Homo sapiens: one gene and its partners. The protein of the gene in region 3 interacts with the protein of the main gene of each other region in a pairwise test. Each region holds a gene or a part of one and is shown on either strand. Other genes may lie near its edges.

Region 1 (3,835 bases), on a different chromosome or scaffold from region 3:
TGGCCCCCTCCCCACTAGCTCCCCAGCGTCAGCCTCCAGAGGCCGCGGGGCAGGGCTGGGGGGAACTCAGATCCCCAGGCTGGCTTTTGCTCTCCCTCAATTCCGGAAAAGCTTGAGGACTCCCGGTGGCGGGGGATGGGGGGTCGGCTAGCAGGGCGCTGTGTGACCCTTGCCCCTCGCCGCCCCTCCTGGCTCTCAAATGAGGGAGAGAGCGGCACCATCCCCGCGGTCCTCTTGAAGCCGAAAGGTAGATCCCTGCCCCGTTCCCGCCGTCCTGGGGTGGAGGGGTGCTCGGGCCGCCCCCTACCCCGGCTGGGCGCCCCCCGCCGCGGTCCGCACGTACCCGGCTGCGCCCGCGCCGCTGGCCTGCGCTCCTCCGGCCCGGCCCACCTGGGGCTCCGGCAAGCTGAGTTTGCGCAACTTCCGGCGGCCGCGGGCAAGTGAACCCGCTGGTCCAGGTACTACCCGAAAAGGGTAAGGAAAGCCAGGCAGGGGCCAGAACCCGAGCCCCGGCCGCCGGCAGCTGGCCTGGCTCAGGAACTGGGTCCGACCCGCTCCAGGACCACCCAGGGAAGTTCTTCCGGGAGCCGAGACCCGCCCACCGCACACCTGGCGCGCGGGGTCCCCGTGGCTCTGGCAGGCAAGCGCACCCACCTTAGAGATGGACAAACTGAGCCCCGCTCCCTGACACTCAGAACGACCGCCAGGTGATGTTCACTGTGCCAGGCACGGGAAAGTGTTTTTCTTGGTATCGGGTAACCCATTTTAATCTTCCCAACAATCACTATCTGGTGAGTTCTATTGTTACCCCATTTGACTAATGGTAAACTGAGGCTGAGAGAGGCTGAGTCACTAGCCCAAAATCACTCTGGGGAGTCCAGCCTGCGCACTTTCCCTCCAGACCAAGGCTTAACGCCACCACTTTCTAGCTGTGTGTCCCTGACCAGGCTGCGGGACCCTCCTGGTGCTCCATGCTGTCACGTGTAGAGTCCATCCCTCTGGAACAGGCTGAGCCTGAGCATGCCTCAGCTGCCTTGTGAAAACGGTTAACATCGGCAACAACAGCCGTCATAGTAACAACAATAACTAGAATTTTGGGGTGCCAGGCACCATACTCATTTAAATCCCCAGAGCCCCCTCATTTAATCCCATGAGACTGCAGCCCTGCAGGAAGGAATTCCCAGAGGGAGGTGACTGTCACCTCTTCCACCCCAAGTCCTATAACTCACTGCAGGTAGGAACATTTGATAGGCCATTTTTTCATGGGAATCCTGAGGCCCAGAGAAGGAGCTGTCCCCCAGGCCTCAGCCCCAGCCCTCTGCCACACTCAGGCTGAAGAGGCTCCTGTTCCATGTCTGTGCCTGTGGGAGCTGGGCCAGGACTAGGGTACAGGGCATGAGGAGACCGGCAGTGATGCACATCAGCTTTCCTTCCCCCTCAGCACTGCAGCCTCCTCCAGTCCCTGACTTTACAGGGGACGGGGCAACAAGTCCTTCATCCTCCAAATGGCCTGCTGAGCCCTGCCTAGCCCTCCACGGAGGCAGAAATGGGGGATGGGGAGGGAAGGCTCCTTCAGGCGCTAATAGTAGTAACAGCAAAGCAACAATAATGATTTTCGTAATAGCAAAGAAAAGAACAGTCCTTCCTTTCCAGCCCCAGCCCCGGACCCTACAGCTGCCAAGATGCTGATGCCTAAGAAGAACCGGATTGCCATTCATGAACTCCTTTTTAAGGAGGGAGTCATGGTGGCCAAGAAGGATGTCCACATGCCTAAGCACCCGGAGCTGGCAGACAAGAATGTGCCCAACCTTCACGTCATGAAGGCCATGCAGTCTCTCAAGTCCCGGGGCTGCGTGAAGGAACAGTTTGCCTGGAGACATTTCTACTGGTACCTTACCAATGAGGGTAGCCAGTATCTCCGTGATTACCTTCATCTGCCCCCAGAGATTGTTCCTGCCACCCTACATCTGCCCCCGGAGATTGTTCCTGCCACCCTACACCGCAGCCGTCCAGAGACTGGCAGGCCTCGGCCTAAAGGTCTGGAGGGTAAGCGACCTGCAAGACTCACAAGACGGGAAGCTGACAGAGATACCTACAGACGGTGTTCTGTGCCCCCTGGTGCTGACAAGAAAGCCGAGGCTGGGGCTGGGTCAGCAACCGAATTCCAGTTTAGAGGCAGATGTGGTCGTGGACGTGGTCAGCCACCTCAATAAAATTGGAGAGGATTATTTCACATTGAATAAACTTACAGCCAAAAAAGAAAAGAACAAATCTCATCTGAGCACTTTCTTTGTACCAGACACTGTTCTAAGCTCTACAAAATGTTAACTAATTTAATCCTCACACCTACCCTGTGAGGGCTACTATTATTATGCCCATTTTCAGATGAGAAAACTGAGGCTCCAAGAGGTAAGGCCACGTGCCCAAAATTACACAGCTGATTAATGGTAGAGCCAGGATTGGAACCCAGGCTCACATCTGGGGAGGGGAGGTGGAAGAGACGGTGTTTTCAGTGTTGGGCTTTGGCCACTCACCAGATGTGCCCCCCAAGGAAGTCCCAAGGAATCTACTGCCTCGTCGGCTGGACCCCAGAGGGAGAAACCACCTTAGGAAGCACTCCCTGGTCATGGTTCTGAGTCTCGGTTTCCTCTGCTGTAAAATGGGGGCAATAACGGCAATGTTTTCCCAGCAGAAATAAAGTCTCATTACTGCTGTGTTTAAACCCTCCTGTGGCTCCCTTACAATAAAATCCAAGCTCCCTGCAGTGAGCTGAGATTGAGCCACTGCACTCCAGCCTGGACAACAGAGCAAGACTCTGTCTCAAAAAAAAAAAAAAAAAAAATCCAAGCTCCCCACTTGGCCCTCAGGCCTTCCAGGACTCAGTCCTTGTCCAAATCTCCCATCTTATCTCCAACCTCTTTCCTGCTCTGGCCACAAAGCCCTCCCTGCTGTTCCTGAACATAAGGTCTTTCCTGCCTCAGGGCTTTTGCACCAGCTGTTCTCTGTCTGGAACCTCTTCCCTCACCCCCTTCAGATCTCATTTCAAATGTCATCTCCTCCAAGAGACCCCCTCAGCAATTTCACCCATTTTATTCCCTTCCGAGCACTCATTACATCCTGTCATTTTAGATACTCTTATCTAGGATAGGAAATATAACTCGTTTCCTGTCTCTCCCACTGGACCATGAGCTCCATCACACCCTTCCAATTTTCTTCCTTCAGGGACCAAACACGAGGAAATACCGTTGAACAACCGGCTGTTCTGGACCCAGCCCACCTCAAAGGCCAAGGCCACTCATCAAGAGGTATATATTAAATGTATAAAGCTTTTTCTTATATCAGTAAGAAAGAGAGAAGAAAGAAAGAGAGGAAGAAAGAAAGGAGAGAAAGTTAAACATATCTGTCAAGAATAACACAAAAGTGATGTTGTGTCCTTCTTAGTACATGGTATCAGAAGGCTTCTTTTTTCTTTTTTTAGAAATGAGGTCTCACTGTGTTGCCCAGGTTGGAGTGCACTCCATAGCTCACTGCAGCCTCAAATAGATGGGCTGAAGCAATCCTGCCACCTCAGCCTCCTGAGTGGCTGGGACTATAGGTACATTACCACACCCACTCATAACAACAGTTTGTCTTAATCTTAGTGATCAGCCAATTCCTTGGTTAAGGCAGTATCTGCCAAATTTCTCCACTGTACAGTTATTATTTTCCCTTTGTAATTAATAAATATCTTGTGAGAAGAGAAAAAAAAAAAAGGACAGGGTCCCTAAGCACCAAGCCTCCTCCCCAAACCCTCACCGTGCTCCTGGCCTTTCCAGACCTGTCCTACTCTTCCTCC
Region 2 (3,600 bases), on a different chromosome or scaffold from region 3:
TTTTGTGTTTTGTCTAACAAATCTTTGCAAATATTAGGATCATAGATATTCTCTTCTTAAAGTTTTATCATTTTTGCTTTTATATTTAGTTCCATGATCCATCTTGAGTTAATTTTTGTGTGTAGTGAAAGTAGGGAGTTGATATTTTCTCCCTATGTGCATCCAGTTGTTCCACTCTCATTTGTTAAAAAGATTTTCCTCTCTCCATTGAATTGTCTTGGCATCTTCATCAAAAATGAATTGATCATGTATGTAAATTGACCATATGTTTCTGGACTGTCTATCCTGTTACATGGATCTGTTTGTCTATCCTTATTGGCATATTAATTTTAATAAGCCAACTTATATTATTTGAATACCTGAAGCAAGTATTCAGAATAAATATGGAAGCTGAATTCTTCCATGACTGCTTACTAGTGAACCATACGCAAGAATTAGAATCAGGTTGGGCAGTCCTCCTTGCATGTTGCCCAAATGTTTCCCCAGGCAGCAACCTTATTTTAAGTGATTCTGTAATAAGCAAAAGCCAAAAATATAGTTATAATCTTATTCAGGAATCATAATCCCAGTGAAAAAAATAAGTATTTTTCAAGCCCATTAATATAGAATGTGACTTGAACTTAATTTTTATTTGTTAATTTATTCAGTAATTTATTGGGCATCTACTATATTCCAGACACTGTTCTAGACAGGAAAAAGCAGGAGGAGAATATTTATTTGTTCATAATTTCTGCAAGAAAACATTATTTATAACATCAGCTCTGTTTCCTGTTTAACAGTATATTTCTCACAATTACAGAGAAAAATCTATACCTGGTCAAATATGCATCAGAATAAATGTCATCACATATTCTTACGAATTGACAGAAAATTATAAACATTCAAATGTTAACTAAGAAAAAATATTTTCCAGCATCTCCAAATCTTGCTATCACTTCCATAAAATACCTATTTCTTTTGAGCCTAAAATGTAAACTATTATTTCTATTAGTTGCATTTTCCAGATTATTTTATTCATTCATTCATTTCTTTGAGAAAGGGTCTTGCTCTGTCACCCAGACTGGAGTGCAGCAGCACAATCACAGCTCACTGCACCCTCGACCTCCTGGGCTCAAGCGATCCTCCTACCCCAGTCCCCCAAGTAGCTGGGACTACAGGTGTGCACCACCATGCCTGGCTAATATTTTTTACATTTTGTAGTGATGAGATCTTACTATGTTGCCCAAGGTGATCTTGAACTCCTGAGCTCAAGCAATCCTCCCACCCTGGTTCCCAAAATGCTGAGATTACAGGCGTGAGCCATAGCGCCCAGCTCCAGCTTATTTTAGAATTCAAATCTTATCTATTATTTCTAAGAGAATTTTTAGTTTTACCAACTGGACCTTCATATGACTGTTTCTTCTCTGGGTCTACATAATTTGAATAAATATGTAATCTTATTTTAACTCATTTTCCCAGACTATCTGGGTGAATGATACATTTTCAGGATTATATGCAATTCCAGAAGTAAGTTGTAAATGGTGAAGAATGTGAACAATTCCAGAACACCCTTCCTGAGGGATCAGTGATGATTTCTGCGGAGTCTTACAAACACGAAGAAACAATTTCTAAATATCATTGCACACAAATATGGCAATAGGAATACACTATGTTGGGAGCAGCAGAGAGGGAGAATATAAAGAAGGCAAGTTGTTAATCATTTAAAAAGAATGGCAAAGTGCAAATAGAAGGTCCCCCAAGGTGCAATGCAGCCAAGCATTTGTTTGAGAGGAGACTCTAACAGGAGCCTTATGGAGTTCTGTGCAGACAGCACTTAGTAGGATTCTGGTTGCATTGAGTGCTATAAGTTCACATTGATTAATAACTTGATGTCTTAATGTTAAAATGAAATCTAATTTAAATGGTCTAACAGAAGGGTTAGAAAATTTTCTTGTCTTTGCCCAAATGGTAAATAGTTAAGGGCTCGTAAGCCATACACTCTGCCATTGTAGGGCAAAAGCAGTCAACGACAAACATAAATGAATAAACATGGCTGTATTTCAATAAAATTTTATTTACAAAAGAGCTGAACGATGGCCAGATTTATCCTGTAGGCCATAGTGTGTCAGCCCTTCTAATGTTCAAGGAGTTCTGATGAGATACCTTCCAAAAATCATACATTGATACTGAAAGGCCTGTGGCCTTGAAAATGTTCTTCTTGAGTGCCTGGTACTTGGGGGTTCTCTTTAGAAGGGAGATGACTAGATAATTATATGCAGAAGAATGAAATGAAACTCTTATCTCTCTCCATAGAAAAAAATCAAATCAAAAAGGACTAAATCAAATCTAAAACATAAAACTATAAAACTTCTAGAAGAAAACACTGGGAAAACACTCTAGTACATTGGTCTGGTCAAAGACTTATTGAGTAAGATCTCAAAAGCACAGGCAACCAAAACAAAAATGGACAAATGGGATCACAGCCAGCTAAAAAGCTTCTACTGAGCAAAGAAAACAATCAACAAAGTGAAGAGACAACCCACAAATTGGAGAAAATATTTGCAAACTACCCATCTGACAAGGGATTAATTATCAGATAATATAAGGAGCCCAAACAACTCAATAGTGAAAAACCAAATTATACATTTTTAAAATGGGCAAAAAGCCAGGCTTGGTGCCATGCACCTATAATCCCAGCTACTCAGGAGGCTGAGGTGGGAGGATCACTTGAGGCCGTAAGTTAGAGACCAGCCTGGGCAACATATCAAGACTTCATCTCAAAAAATTTTTTTAATTAGAAAAAAATTAAAAATGGGCAAAAGGTCTATATACATATATCAAAAGAAGTCATGCAAACAGTCTAAAAATGTCCAACATCACTAATCATCAAAGAAATGCAAATCAAAACTAAAACAAGATATCATCTCATCTCAGGTAAAATGGATTTTATCAGAAAGACAGGCAATATTGATTGGTGGCGAGGATGTGGAGAAAGGGCAACCCTTGTACACTGTTGGTAGGAATGTAAATTAGTACAGCCACTATGAACAGTATGGAAGTTCCTCACAAAACTAAGAGTAGAACTACAATATGATCCAGCAAACTAACTGCTGGGTATATAGCCAAAAAAAGTTGAAATCAGTATGCCAAAGAGATATCTGCACTCCCATGTTTATTGCAGCAATATCCACAAGAGCCAAGGTATGGAGTCAAGATAAGTGTCCATCAGTGGATCAATGGATAAAGAAAATGTGGCACATATACTCAATGGAATATTATTCAGCCATAAAAAGAGTAAAATCCTGTCATTTACAACAACATGGATGGAACTAGAGGACATTATGTTAAGTGAAATAAGCTAAGCACAGAAGGACAGTAGAACATGTTCTTACTCAAATGTGGGAGCTAAAAAAAAAAATGTGATCTCATTGAGATAGAGAGTAAAATGATGGTTGCCAGAGCTGGGAAGGGTAATGGGAAATGAATAAATAGGGGTTGGTTAATGAGCCTAAAAATACAGTTAGAGGGAATAAGACGTAATGTTCAGGAGCATAACAGGGCAACTATAGTTAAAAATAAGCTACTGTAAGTATTTCAAAATAATGAAAAGACTAGAATTGT
Region 3 (3,408 bases):
GAACTGAATCAGGGGAAACATGGTCTTTCAGAAGAATCAAGTGACAAAGACAATACTTAGAGACTGCATTTTGGGAACTTGCAGACTGAGACTTCGCTGTAGGTGTTCTGAAGTAGTAAGGGCCCTGAAGGGAGAAAATGATGTGATTGATGTTCTAGAGTAGATAGCAACAGCCTGTGTGACCCCTGGAAGAGGATCGAGAGGCTAACCCCATGGGATTCATACTGAGAAAGGATTATTATCAGCCTAAAAATGAGGAGGCCAAGATGGATGTTAAAAACCCACCAATTTTTAGATACAAGAGCATTGGTAGAACCAATGGTATTCCATGACCACTAGGGAGTATGTGTTCGGACATTCTCAGAAAAGTTATTGATCATTTTCATAAAGTCCTAAGCTAAAGAACAACTCTTGAGCTACACAGAACTATTAAAGGCATGTCTAATGCCCAAGACTAGTGCCTGTATTAGACCAAAAATGCTCATTTAGACTATGAATTTAATTCTATCAGATATGCTTCAGATTACTTGTGTGCATGCAGTAGTTTGGAAAAGTGCCTTCCTGAATTATAAATATAAAACTGAAAGAGGATGAGAGTGAAGGTGACACTTAGAAACACATGGTTGGACTACTCAGCAATTTATTAATCTCCATTTTTTTCATCCCACCCAAGAAATCCGCCACCAAATATCAACATAAAATGCATAGCCAATCTTTTCATTTTTATTGCTTTAACACACATTTTAATTTTCAGTTGAACAAATTCTTAATGAGCTACAGAGTGACATGAGTTGAAATTAGAATAAAGTAAAATAATACTATATAACCAAAACAAACCCAGTGTTACATATGTGAAATAATGCAATTAAGAGCACAACTAAAAAAAATCATTGATTCAGTTAAACACAAAAGACATGCAGGGTCTCAAACAAGGAGTATTTGGGCTTCTATGTCAATGTCATAGGAAAGAGCTTTTTCTATTTCTGGATAAATATTTCATTTTTATTGATTGGCAAAAATACTTTAAGGATAAATATGGACCAGAAAGGCCTACAGTATTTTTGCCAAATTTTATCTATAGCCAAAGCACAAAACTGCTTTGAACTGGTCATTAATATAATGGGCAGTTCATTCAATCATATTCTGTCTCTGCAGAGCAGGGTGAAATGAACAAGCAAGATAGTCAGAAACACCTCAAACGCCACTAAACTTAAGTTCCCAAGATATTGCTGCAATAAACATGACTATTATGAATTGGTTACTTTTATTTCATCTCAGAAAGTCTTAGTTTAAATCTGCTTTCATCCTAAATTATAATGTGCATATTACCTTCAGAGAGGTCACTACATTTAAGCTGTCAAAGTTGTTGTTGTAATACGACATAAAGTAAATGATTTTTTTCCCCCAAGTTGCTATGAAACTAAAACCATAATCAAAATGGAAAACAGGGGCATCTGGAAATCTTTCTCTAGAAGTTTTAATTCATATTTAATCACCCAACTTGCCCAAGAAAATTTTGTTTTAAGCCTCAATTATTAGGTACTAAATTGGGCATAAAATATGTCTACTTCTGTTTTCAGGAACTTGTTAGTCACGGATATGGAGGAGAAATTATTATGCTACCATTTAGGTCTAAGGAAATTTTCTTTGGAGGGACTGTACCACATGAGAAAAATTTGCAAAATCAACAAATAGCACATCTTAACCCTGCAAGACAGTTGCTGAAATTCTCATATTTATATCCCTATGGACACAATGTATACTAACATGTAAAAATACAGCATTATAATGGTATAAGATTTGGCAAGCAATGGAACATGATTTTTATAGTAGTTTAAAATTAATTTTATGTTTAAATATTCAGGAAGGAGGATAGTTCTGTTTAACTGAGAGCAGGGGCTAGCATCTCTGACTTACTCCTTTGCTTTACTAATAAACACTCCACTACAAATCTGGTGTTAAAAGCCCAGGTCAAGGAAATCCCTTAGTAGAAGCTCAACTCTCAGTGAATACCACAGAGAGGTTCAGGTAATTTACACAGATGGGGAACTGATGTGACATACCTAAGGTTGGCCTGAGTCTGCAGAAGCTGGGCTGTCAGAATAGAAAAGCAAGATATCTACAGGCTTTTGAACTATTGATACAACTATTCAAAGGGGGCTTTAAATGTATAAGGAAGTGTCACAGACCTCCAACACCAAATAACCAGAACTAAAAATAACCATCCTTCTTGAAAATGCCAAGGAAATAAACTTTGGAACTGGGAATATTTCATTTGAAATGAAAACACAAGAACTACTCTGCTAATATTAAGTAGCTTTTGTACATGTTCTAAATTGAAGAAACATTTAGACATAATTGTTAGAAATCTGAGCCTTTTTGAAAGAGAATTTTCTCCTTGAGGGCTTTCCTTTCCTACAGTTGGGAATAGGCACCATCATGACTACCAGATACATAAAAGTGAAGATCCCCAATATACACATCCATTGCTCAAACTAGGAATGTGTGTATTTCTTATGTGGCTCCACCGTAAGAAATATCAGAAAGTCATTTAACTCTCCAAGGCCTGAGATTTGAAAGCCTATCCAGCAACATGGGCAAGAAGAGTCTAGCCTTCAGTCGACTCTAAAAAAGGCCATGTAATTTTAAAACACAAAGTTTACCTGTATTCAGGCACATACTATGCACACGTGTGACCTCCATAAAGAAGGAAAGATGTATTTGCTACAGTTTGGGTAAATTTCAAATACAGGGAAACTTTATCCTACTACAATAATCCTTGGCCAACACTCTGCTGCAATCTATAATTTTAAACACAGTCACATGTTAGCAGTAAAAGAGGAAAGGATTGGTGTTAACAAATGGTATTAACCAACCAATACTGAAGATGGGCTGAAACAGGCATTTCATTGAAGCTTTCTTCTCCATGGTAATAAAAGTAATTTGGCAAAGGTTGTCCTCTTATTTCAGATCACGTAAATAACTTACTTCCCATGTACCTGACACTCTACATTCAGTTAATAGAGGTGAGAATATTCAGCTAATTATATATCTGTCTTGAATGATGTAAAATATATATTAATATTTTAAAGCCAGTGAGACTTTGAGCAAGATTCTTATCCCATTTAACCCTCAGCTTCCTTGTCTGTGGAATGATATATATCCTATAGGGTTATTTGGAGGATTGAATAAGATAATAGTTAGCATTTAACACAGAGCTGGCACATGAGGGCAAGGATCACTATTTGTTTTGTTATATGGTGTATCCTAAGAACCTAGAACAGTGCCTGGAACATCACAGTTGTTTAACAAATAGCTGTTAAATATATGAACGTATGGTAACCCAGATTGGCTCTAATATTGGGAAGAATTTCACCTACCATCAGTCAGGAGAATGGCTGAATTTCT

The links.
Region 1: the proteins of CTNNA3 (region 3) and FAM110A interact in binary tests that used the Homo sapiens proteins (3 or more experiments, as listed by UniProt).
Region 2: the proteins of CTNNA3 (region 3) and ZNF474 interact in binary tests that used the Homo sapiens proteins (3 or more experiments, as listed by UniProt).

Annotation. Positions count from the first base shown.
Region 1 is NC_000020.11:837,825-841,659, reverse strand, and holds part of FAM110A (protein FAM110A), read right to left. Parts: exon of another isoform or gene 1,645-3,835; intron 379-1,644; exon of another isoform or gene 1-378.
Region 2 is NC_000005.10:122,132,546-122,136,145, forward strand, and holds part of ZNF474 (zinc finger protein 474), read left to right. Parts: intron 1-3,600.
Region 3 is NC_000010.11:65,911,822-65,915,229, forward strand, and holds the end of CTNNA3 (catenin alpha-3), read right to left. Parts: 3' UTR 702-3,408; downstream 1-701. UniProt on the Homo sapiens protein: May be involved in formation of stretch-resistant cell-cell adhesion complexes.